Linked DNA regions of Homo sapiens: region 2 is linked to region 1. The links come from fine-mapping of genetic effects on gene expression. A gene starts in region 1. The other region holds a variant in brackets. All regions are shown on one strand. Distances are from middle to middle. Region 1 holds the start of CNTNAP1 (contactin associated protein 1). Region 2 overlaps LOC102725238 (a long non-coding RNA gene).

Region 1 (5,353 bases):
GCAGGGCAGCTCCGCTCGCGCGCAGCCAGTAGATCGGCAGTATCCAGCAGCAGGGCGAGGCTGTAGGGCAGCTGCAGCACCACGAAGGCCGCCACCAGAGCCACCACGACGCGCAGCGCACGCCGGCGCTCGGGCCCCCTGGCGGCCAGCAGCGTGCGGCCCAGAAGCGCGTAGCAGGCTACCATGACGCCCAGCGGCAGCGCGAAGCCCAGGGCCACCTGCGCCACGGCGCTCGCCCCCTTCACCGTCTGCGTGAGGCCCTCGGGGAAGATGAGGCGACAGCGTCGTTGGCCTTCCCGCTGCCCATCCTGGCTGAAGAGCAGCGCAGGCAGCGCCAGGAGCAGTGACAGCAGCCACACGATGACGGAGACCAAGTGTGCGCGGCCGGGAGTGGAGGGCCGCGGCCCGGCTGGGAGCGCTCGCGCGATGGCCACGTAGCGGTCGGCGCTGATACAGGCCAGGAAGAGGAAGCCGGCGTGGAAGGAGGCCGAGTAGAGGCCAGAGATGGTGCGGCAGGTGGCACTTCCCAGACTCCAGCCCTGAAGAGCCCCTGCTGCCGCGAAGGGCAGAGTCAGGGCCAGCAAGAGGTCGGCCAGGGCCAGCTGGAGCAGGTGGGCAGAGGTGGGCGAGCGCGCTGCGCGTCGGGCTGCCAGGTGGGTGGCCAGGACCAGGCCATTGCCGGCCAGACCCAGCGCAGCCACGGTCAGGGAGACACTGGGTTGGAAGGCCCGGCTGAAGGCCTGGACATCGGCCTTGTAGCAAAGCTCCGGCAGTGGCTCAGCCGAGTATGCGTCCTCTTCATCCCCAGAGTAATGGCCCCAGGAAACCTGGGAGGGTCAAATGAGAGGCGGGATCTTATGAGACACATCTGACCACACAACTCCCCCGCCCACACTTGCCTTCCAAGCTGAGAGCTCCTGTGTGGCCAGATGTAACAGTACACGGGGAGACATAAGCTCTTCTCCAGACTCTTCCTAGCACACCTTCAGCAGGCCTTGGCTTCCCTTGCACCCCTCCTACCTCTGCTTCCAGCTTCCTGGGTGACCTTGAGCAAGCCACTTGCTCTTTCTAGACCTCAGTTACCTAACCTGTAATGTTGAGATTATAAATCCTGACCAGCCCACCTCTCAAGGTTTGCTGTGAAGATGGCAATATGGAAAATAATGGATGGGGAGAACCTGTGTTCTCCAAAGGCCATAATACAAAGTTTGTATTATTATTATTATTTATTATTATTATTATTGGAGACAGAGTCTTGCTCTGTCGCCCAGGCTGGAGTGCAGTGGCACGATCTCGGCTCACTGCAACCTCCGCCTCCGGGTTCAAGAGATTCTCCTGCCTCAGCCTCCCAAGTAGCTGGGACTACAGGCGCCCACCACCACGCCCAGCTAATTTTTGTATTTTTAGTAGAGATGGGGTTTCACCATGTTGGCCAGGATGGTCTCGAACTCCTGACCTCAGGTGATCCGCCCACCTTGGCCTCCCAAAGTACTGGGATTACAGGCCTGAGCTACCACGCCCAGCCCAAAGTTTGTATTATTAATAAATCCTACAGCTTCAGTTCCCTTTGCAGCGCCCTCTCCTGGAAGGATGCCCATATGCAGGCTTTGCCTCAGACCTGAGCCCTGGACTCCAACCTCCGTCTGGAGTGGGTTTCTGTTTCTCTTCTTTCCCTTCCATACCCACCTTCCCTGTACCTCCAATACCAGCACACTGAACCACTCATGCCAAGGGGGTCTCCAGGGTTGGGACTCAGGTTTTCAGGGCCCAGGTGGGACCCTGGACCTCTAGGTTCAACCCGCCTTTCCCCTCAGCCCTAGTCCCTGTCCCACAACCCCAGCCTCACACCACCAGCCCATTTATCTGGAGGACCCCTAGTCTGAGACAGCGCCAAGAATCCTGAATAAGCCATAGGATGGCAGAGGCCCATTGCCAGGTGGGGAATCCCATTCCTTCCCTGTCTCCTCCCTCTCTGTAACCCTTCTCCCCCTCCCTGCCCCCACTCCCACCTGCTCTGTGGCCTCCGTCCCCATCTCTGGCTACACAGGTTTCTGAGGTATAGCCACAGGGGGTAGAAGTTAAACTACTAGCGGGACAGGAAGGAAGAGGCGGGGAGAGGGGCCGAGAGGGAGGTGGGGATTAGGGTCTACGGGGTCACTTTCCCATTCCACCTCCTCCAAAAGACTTCACTCTCTTGTGCAGGATCTGGATTTTACGAAAAAAAAAAAAAGAAGAAGAAAGGAAGGAAAGAGGAAAGAAAGAAAGAAAGAAAGAAAAAAAGGAAGGAAAGAAAGAAAAAAGAATGAACGAAAGAAAGAAAAAATAATTTACTGTCTTTGTCAGTGAAGAAAGAACGGGCTTCGGAATATAATCATTTGCTGTGTGATATTGACTAAGTTTCTTGACCTCTCTGAGCCTGAGGTTTTTCATCTGCAAAGTGGAGTAGGGCAAAAATGCTAAATTCACAGTGCCCAGCACCACTCCTAGAGCATAATTTGCCTTCCGAAAATGTTAAGATTCTTTTACTTACCCTTCATTCCATTTCCAGGCACCCCTCCCCCAAACCACCTCCCTTTTCTTGAAATTTTCAGGATGCTTCTGGCCCTAGGTTCCCTGTCCTCACTCCTGTGGCCCTAGTCCCGGGCAGCCTCGGGTTACTTGGGGTTTTCCCGGTGGCGAGAGGCTCTCTACCCCCGCCCTTTCGCAGCAGGGCTGAGGCACGCGCTTGCGCGGGGTCCGGGAAACCGGCGCGTGCCAGGAGACAGAGGCTGGGGAAGGGGGGAGGTGAGAGGAAAGAGGGTGGAAAGGAGAGGATAGAGAGAGAAGAGCGGAGGACCAGGAACCAGAGAGAGAGAGAGAGAAAAGAGAGAGGAGAGACAGAGCGCTTGGGGGCGAAAGGAGAGAGGGAGGGAAGGGTGGGTAAGGAGGAGAGAGCGGTCTGCTGCAAACCCCAGGAGGAGAGCTTGGAGCCCAAGCCAGAACTCGAGCCCTAGCCGGAGCCGTTCACAGGGAGGCGGCTGCCGGGACCGTCAGCCCTGCATGATGCATCTCCGGCTCTTCTGCATCCTGCTCGCCGCGGTCTCAGGAGCCGAGGGCTGGGGCTACTGTGAGTGTTGGGCTTGGAGGCAGGTGGGGTTGGGCCCAGGAGTCCAGAGCCTGCAGGGCGGCCCCGAACCGCATTGCGGCTGGGTGGTCGCGGGTCCTTCCCGGCCGGCGCGCGCCCGCTGGCTCTCATCTTTTCCTGCCTCTCCCCCGCGCTCCGCATTGCAGCTCTGAGGCTGCCGCGCGCGCCCGGGGCTGGGGCTGGGCTCTGGGAAGAGGATGAAGTCAGCGGGCAGGGATTTGGGGTTGGGATCCAAGCAGGAGCTGGTGCCTGGGTTTGAGGCTAGGGCTGGGGGATAAGTGTATACTGGTGACCGATACTAGGATTAAGGTTTTGCCAGGGCTTAAGGCTGGACTTTGGAGCTGGCCAAGGGGTGGGGTTTGTGGCTAGGGCTGGGGTTTGTGGCTGGGGCTGGGTTTTGTGGCAGGGATCCAAGCAGGAGCTGGTGCCCCTGACTGATGCTAAGGCTGGACATGGAGCTGGTGATGGTGCTAGCACTGGCTGAGGTTGGGTGCAAGGCCTGTATTTGGGGATGGTGCAGGTTTTGGGGGCCGAGTTGGATTGAGGCTAGGGTTGGAGCTGGATTGGTGTCTTGGGTTGACTTAGGTTGTGGAAGATGCTGAGGTTTAGGATTGAGTTTGGGAAAGTACTAAACCAGGGCAGGTATTGGGCTAGCTAGGGAGGGTCTGGCCTTGGGCCTATAGGTGTAGCCTAGGGGTTTGCCTAGAAGGAGAAGGTAGCCTCCTCTGAGCATGCAGCTGTTGCTGCAGCCAGGATTGAATAGATGGCTTTAAGGTAGGGCTGGGTGTGCCTCTGGGGGCGGGGGTTGGGGGCACGGAAGGGGAAGCTTCGGTCGCTAAGTGGGCCGGCCTTTGGAAGGGTCTGGGAGGGGCCAGCGCTGACTAACAGTCGGTTTCCCTACCCTAGACGGCTGCGACGAGGAGCTGGTGGGTCCCCTGTATGCACGCTCCCTGGGCGCCTCCTCCTACTACAGTCTCCTTACTGCGCCGAGATTCGCCAGGCTGCACGGTGAGCTCCGCGGAACATCAGCTGCCAACTGGCAGCGCACCGCGGAAGGGTGGGGGCCTCCGGAGGACTTCGGGGAGAGGGATAGCCGGTTAAAGCTCCTGTCCTTTCTATAGGCATAAGCGGGTGGTCACCACGGATTGGGGATCCGAATCCCTGGCTCCAGATAGACTTAATGAAGAAGCACCGGATCCGGGCCGTGGCCACACAGGGCTCCTTTAATTCTTGGGACTGGGTCACACGTTACATGCTACTCTACGGCGACCGAGTGGACAGCTGGACACCGTTCTACCAGCGAGGGCACAACTCGGTACTCTGGGCGCCAAGGCGGTAACACTTGGGGAGCTTCCTCTGCTCCAGGCTCTGGGCCGGGCACCAGCCTCTGGGAAAATGGAGGGGGTGGTGGTGAGGGCTCGGACAAGGAGCAGTGACTCCACTCCAGGGACTCTGTCCAGAGGGACTGTCAGCTTAGGACGTGCGCGAAACACTCGGTTCACAGGGTTTAACACACTTTAGGGTAAAACCTGGGAGAGCTTCCTAAGGAGGTGACATTTGATTTCAGGTCTGAGGAAATAATAGGATTGTGGGACAGGGCACTTTATGGAAACTGTGCGGGCAAAGCCGCCAAGCAGGGAAGACCAAGGAGTGTTTACTTTCCAGAAGTCGAGATTGGCTGGGTGTGAAAGTTGTGGGCTGGGAGGCTATGGAGAAAGAAGCAGAGGGGGGCCGGGCGCAGTGGCTCACGCCTGTAATCCCAGCACTTTGGGAGGCCGAGGCAGGTGGATCACGAGGTCAGGAGTTCATGACCAGCCTGGCCAACATGGTGAAACCCCGTCTCTATGAAAAATACAAAAAAATCAGCCGGGCGTAGTGGCGGGCGCCTGTAATCCCAGCTACTTGGGAGGCTGAGGAAGAGAATTGTTTGAACCCGGGAGGCAGAGGTTGCGGTGAGCCGAGATCGTACCACCGCACTCCAGCCTGGGCGACAGAGCGAGACTCTGTCTCAAAAAATAAAATAAAAAAAAGAAGCAGAGGGCAGGACGTGGTTACTACTCTCCTCCACCCCCGCAGACCTTCTTTGGTAACGTGAACGAGTCGGCGGTGGTGCGCCATGACCTGCACTTCCACTTCACTGCGCGCTACATCCGCATCGTGCCCCTGGCCTGGAACCCACGCGGCAAGATCGGCCTGAGGCTCGGCCTCTATGGCTGCCCATACAGTAAG
Region 2 (5,368 bases), 250 kb before region 1:
TGCTCTTTCCACCTTCTGCTCTAAGCCTTCCACTGGGGCAGGGAGACAGGCACCCACAGCCACTCCCCAACTCCCATGTGCTGTTTCAGAAGATTAACCAAAGCATATTTTCATCCATGCTGGGTACAAGGGAGCAGGCAATTCTGAGCAGGCCCAAGGAGGGTCCTTAGTGCAGAAAGTCCAGAAATAGGGAGGCTGCCCATCCTCCCCCATTTTGCTGTCTAGCACAGCACTGGTGCTGTGAGTGTCTGAAGTGGCGCCAGCTCCCTTTCCCACAGAAAAGCGGCAACCCTTTTCCCTCCTTAGGAAACCACACTTGGGTTTCCCCAGCTGGCTGGATGATGGTCCTGGCAAAAGGTCACTTCTAGTCTGGTATCCATTATCATTAGGAAGAGTGAAAAACTGGTCTATGGGGACCCAGGGCCTCCTCAACCCAGACAGAGAACCCACAAACTCAGAAAGGAGACCGACAGTGCAGGGACTGGGTTAGTGCCCTAACAACATTGTAGGGTTTTTTAAGGGTTTACAACACCATATTTGTTATCCGAAATTCTCATAGAAAATGGAGCCATCAACTAGGGCTGTTTATCAGGTTATCCTGAAGTACTGTTTCTGCTAGAAAGGCAAGATACGTGGTTACTGGTAACCTCTTTTTTTCCTTTTTTTTTTTTTTTTTCTTGAGATGGAGTCTCACTCTTTTGCCAGGCTGGAGTGTAGTGGTGCAGTCTTGGCTCACTGCACCCTCCACTTCCTGGGTTCAAGCGATTCTTCTGCCTCAGCCTCCCGAGTACCTGGGACTACAGGCACGCACCACCACACCCAGATAATTTTTTTTTTGTATTTTTAGTAGACACGGGGTTTCGCCATGTTGGGCAGGATGGTCTCAATCTCTTGAGCTCGTGATCCACCCACCTTGGCCTCCCAAAGTGCTGGGATTACAGGTGTGAGCCACTGTGCCCCGCCTTTTTTTTTTTTTTTTTAAGACAGAGTCTCACTCTGTTGACCCTGCAGCCTCGAACTCCCGGGTTCAGGTGATCCTCCCACCTCAGCCTCCCAAATAGCTGTGACTATAAGCGCACACCATCACACCCAGCTAATTTTTGTATTTTTTGTAGAAATGGGGTTTCACCGTGTTGCCCACGCTGGTCTCAAACACCTAGGCTCAAGGGATCCACCTGCCTTGGCCTCCCAAAATGCTAGGAATACAGGCGTGAGCCACTTCGGCTTTGTGTTTTTTCCAACTTTTTTTTTTTTTTTGAGACAAGGTCTTGCTCTGTCATGCAGGCTGAGTGCAGTGGCACAATCACAGCTCACTGCAGTCTTGACCTCCTGGACTCAAGTGATCCTCCCACCTCACCCTCTCAAGTAGCTTGGACTACAGGTGTGCCACCACACCGGGTACCCTAACACTTCAATAACTGTTTTCTCACAAACAAATGGCTTTCTCATTTGAGGCTCAAGTAGAATTAAGCTAGTATATAAGATCATATATACACATATAACTGCTAGAACTGGCAGATTACCAACTTACTTTAGAATTTAGGAGAAATGTATTAAAGTAATTTAAATTCCTTCTACTAAGGATTGAAAAAGCTTTTGGAAAAAAGAGGAGTGACAGTAGAGAACCTTATAGGACCTTCATTTCTTAAGTGTCCCATAAGATCCTTAGATGATGATGATTATTATTATTATCATTTTTTTTTTTGAGATGGAGTCTCTCTCTGTCACCCAGGCTAGAGTGCAATGGCACAATCTCGGCTCACTGCAACCTCCACCTCCCGGGTTCAAGCGATTCTCCTGCCTCAGCCTCCCAAGTAGCTGGGATTACAGGTGTGTGCCCCCATGCCCAGCTAATTTTTTTTTTTTTTTGAGACGGAGTCTTGCTCTGTTGCCCAGGCTGGAGTGCAATGGCATGATCTCAGCTCACTGCACCTTCCGCCTCCTGGGTTCAAGCGATTCTCCTGCCTCAGCCTCCCAAGTAGCTGGGACTACAGGTGCCTGCCACCACGCCTGGCTAATGTTTTGTATTTTTAGTAGAGACGGGGTTTCACCATGTTAGCCAGCATGGTCTCGATCTTCTGACCTCATGATCCGCCTGCCTCGGCCTCCCAAAGTGCTGGGATTACAGGCGTGAGCCACTGTGCCTGGCCTCGCCCAGCTAATTTTTTGTACTTTTAGTAGAGACGGGGTTTCACCAGGTTGGTCAGCCTGGTCTCGAACTCCTGACATCAGGTGATCCACCCACCTCGGCCTCCCAAGGTGCTGGGATTACAGGCATGAGCCACAGCACCCGGCCTCTAAAAAATTTTATCTCTATCCCAGCAACTAGTTTCTTTTCCAGGAGACATCAATTATTACTATATTCTCTTTTTTTTTTTTAGGTGGAGTTTTGCTCTTGTTTCCCAGGCTAGAGTATAGTGGCACCATCTCGGCTCACTGCAACCTCTGCCTCCCGGGTTCAAGCAATTCTCATGCCTCAGCCTCCCAAGTAGCTGAGATTACAGGCATGTGCCACTACGCCTGGCTAATTTTTGTATTTTTAGTAGAGAAGG[A/G]GTTTTACCATGTTGGCGAGGCTGGTCTTGAACTCCTGACCTCAGATGATTCACCCACCTCGGCCTCCCAAAGTGCTGGGATTACAGGTGTGAGCCACCATGCCAAGCCTATTATTACTATTCTCTTGCGGAATCTTCTATAGACTATTTCTGCATATATGATCATACATATATATATTTCAGCACTTTCCTGTTTTCAGTTATTAATATGTTTTATGGATAGTTCCATATCAGTACATGTAGAACTGCCTTGTTTTCCAATGTATACGTCTACTATATTTGTTTAACCAGTTCCCTATCAATGGACATTTACAGATTACAATTTAAATCTCATGGGGGAGGAGTTGCTGAAGACAAGTGGGATTTTTTTGTTTTTGTTTTTTGCTTTTGAGGCAGGATCTCATTCTGTTGCCTAGGCTGGAGTGCAGTTGCTCAATCAGGGCTTACTGCAGCCTCGAACTGCTGGGCTCAAGCAATCCTCCCAACTCAGCCTCCAGAGTAGCTGGGACCACAGGTACACACCACCACACCTGGCTAATTTTTAAATTTCTTGTAGAGACAGAGTCCCAGCCATGGGGTTTTGCCACGTTGCCTAGGCTGGTCTTGAACTCCTGGGCTCAAGTGATCCTCCCGTCTTGGCCTCCTGAAGTGCTGGGATTACAGGAATGGGCCACTGTGCCCAGCCTCATCAGGAAAGTATTTCTATACCACTTCTTCAAACAGGAATGTCAGAATTTGTGGATGAGTCAAGTTATGTCCCAGGGGTAGTCCAGTGAATACATCTCTGACTCATTTAATGCCTCCTTAATGGATGATTTCTGTAAAAGGGCCCTACCCCTGCATGCCTATGTTGGAGAAAAATCTGCATCAACAAGTTTCTCTCACATTCCTTTTCTTACTAAATGCCAGCTAAGTCCAACAGGGGGCATGCTGAGGCATATTGTACTAGCTCCACCAGCACAGATGCCGCAAACTGGAGCAGAGCAGTCCTTTCCAGAGCATTTCACTCCATTCCAGTGAAAATAAGCAGTTTCTCTTCATTTGTAACTGCATTCAGCATGCCATTGCCTGCATTCAGGGTTGTTGGTTTGCATTTTCCATTGCTCACTCTATTTGCTTGCTGAAAGGCACACTGTTCCATTGTGTGCTTTCAGCCACTGAGACAGAATCCATAAAAGGGATAGTGAGGTAAAAGCAAACAACCCCTTTGGCCCAGAAAAAGGACACCAGGATGCAACATGTCAGCAGTTAGAATCTTACAGGGTGCTCTATCGTATTCTTCCATCCATCTACTTGTTCAATAAAACATGACTACTTCGCACTAGCCATTTACTGGGCTAGGGACTTTAATGAGGATAAATCAAGTCTAGTCCTTTTTTTTTTTTTTTTTTTTTTGAGACGGAGTCTCACTGTTGCCCAGGCTGGAGTACAGTGGCGCCATCTCAGCTCACTGCAACCTCTGCCTCCCAGATTCTCCTCCCTCAGCTTCCCAAGTACCTGGGATCACAGGCACCCACCACCACATCTGGCTAATTTTTATAGAGTTGGGGTTTCGCCATGTTGGCCATGGCTGGTCTTGAACTCCTGATCTCAGGTGACCCGCCTGCTTCGGCCTCCCAAAGTGCTGGGATTATTGGCGTGAGCCACTGCACCCGGCCTTTTTTTTTTTTTTGAGACGGAGTCTCGCTGTGTTGCCAGGCTGGACTGCAGTGGCGCGATCTTGGCTCACTGCAACCTCCGCCTCCCGGGTTCAAGTGATTCTCCTGCCTCAGCCTCCTGAGTAGCCGGGATTACAGGCACACAGCACCATGCCCAGCTAATTTTTGTATTTTGAGTAGAGATGGGTTTTACCATGTTGGCCAGGCTGGTCTCAAACACCTGATCTCAGGTGATCCACCCAAAGTGCTGGGATTACAGGCATGAGACACCACGCCTGGCCACCCCCAGCATTTTTTTTTTTTTTAAAGACAAAGTCACATTCTGTTGTCCAGGCTTGAGTGCAGTGGTGCGATCTCAGCTTGTTGCAGCCTCGACTTCCTGAGCTCAGGTGAGCCTCCTATCAGCCTCCCATGTAGTTGGGACTACAGCTGTATGCCACTACACCTGGCTAAATTTTTTTTTTTTTTTTTTTTTTGTAGAGATGGGGTTTTGCCATATTTCCCAGGCCACTCTTGAACTCCTGGGCTCAAGTGATCTGTTCACCTCGGCCTCCCAAAGTGCTGGCATTACAGGTGTGAAACTCTGCACCTGGCCAGATGCATAGTGTCTGACACAGCTGAAAGCTCCCCCCCAGCATAGGGAAAGCAGTCACTACTCTCAGGAAGAGTGGGGAAGGGTTCACAGGTGAGGGTAGGTACAAAGGAGGGGGAAAGGACCCCCTCCCAAACCCAGTATCTTGCGGTGTGAAAGGGCACTGGGGAATAGCCAAGCACTGCTCATCTCCTCTTATCATGGTTCTGCCATAAGTCTTATCAGTTTACATTTAGGGAGATCCAGCAAAGGGTGTAATATGTAATATGTTCTGTTCAGTTTTGGATCTGTGCTGGGAGAGATCCCAGGGAGACTGTGTGTTTTGTTAATAATAAACAGCTGGGACAAATGATGTGTCTTCACATTGGGACAACCGTCTCACATGGGAGGCTAGCCCTCAGCAGCTGGCTCACAGCTGCCACAAACAACAGTGATTTTTTTTTTGCCAGTTTTATAGGCACTATTCTTGTCTCTCTGATATACATATATGAAAAATGCCTATAATATTTGTATGTTTCTCTTTCTCAAAATCCCTTCCTTTCTTTGCCTTCAAATATTAATATATA

Evidence for each region. PIP is the estimated chance that this variant, and not a neighbour inherited with it, causes the effect.
Region 2: its variant is the best candidate, but not a certain one, in a credible set for the expression of CNTNAP1 in whole blood (INTERVAL, PIP 0.59).

Annotation. Positions count from the first base shown.
Region 1 is chr17:42,679,791-42,685,143 of GRCh38, forward strand. It overlaps CNTNAP1 (contactin associated protein 1), which reads left to right and starts at 2,741. Exons shown (of 24, transcript NM_003632.3): 1 at 2,741-3,106; 2 at 4,031-4,132; 3 at 4,246-4,439; 4 at 5,201-5,348. The coding sequence starts at 3,040. CCR10 (C-C motif chemokine receptor 10) reads right to left here and starts at 2,053. Exons shown (of 2, transcript NM_016602.3): 1 at 2,010-2,053; 2 at 1-827. The coding sequence starts at 2,033. RefSeq lists enhancers at 1-206, 207-1,055, 2,274-2,892, 2,836-2,885, 3,146-3,195 and silencers at 1,441-1,735, 3,981-4,275.
Region 2 is chr17:42,425,112-42,430,479 of GRCh38, forward strand. The region is part of intron 2 of LOC102725238 (a long non-coding RNA gene); the gene reads left to right. Among named protein-coding and RNA genes, the nearest start is that of CAVIN1, 4.5 kb to the left of the region's middle. The variant A/G (reference allele first, on the strand shown) is at 2,553.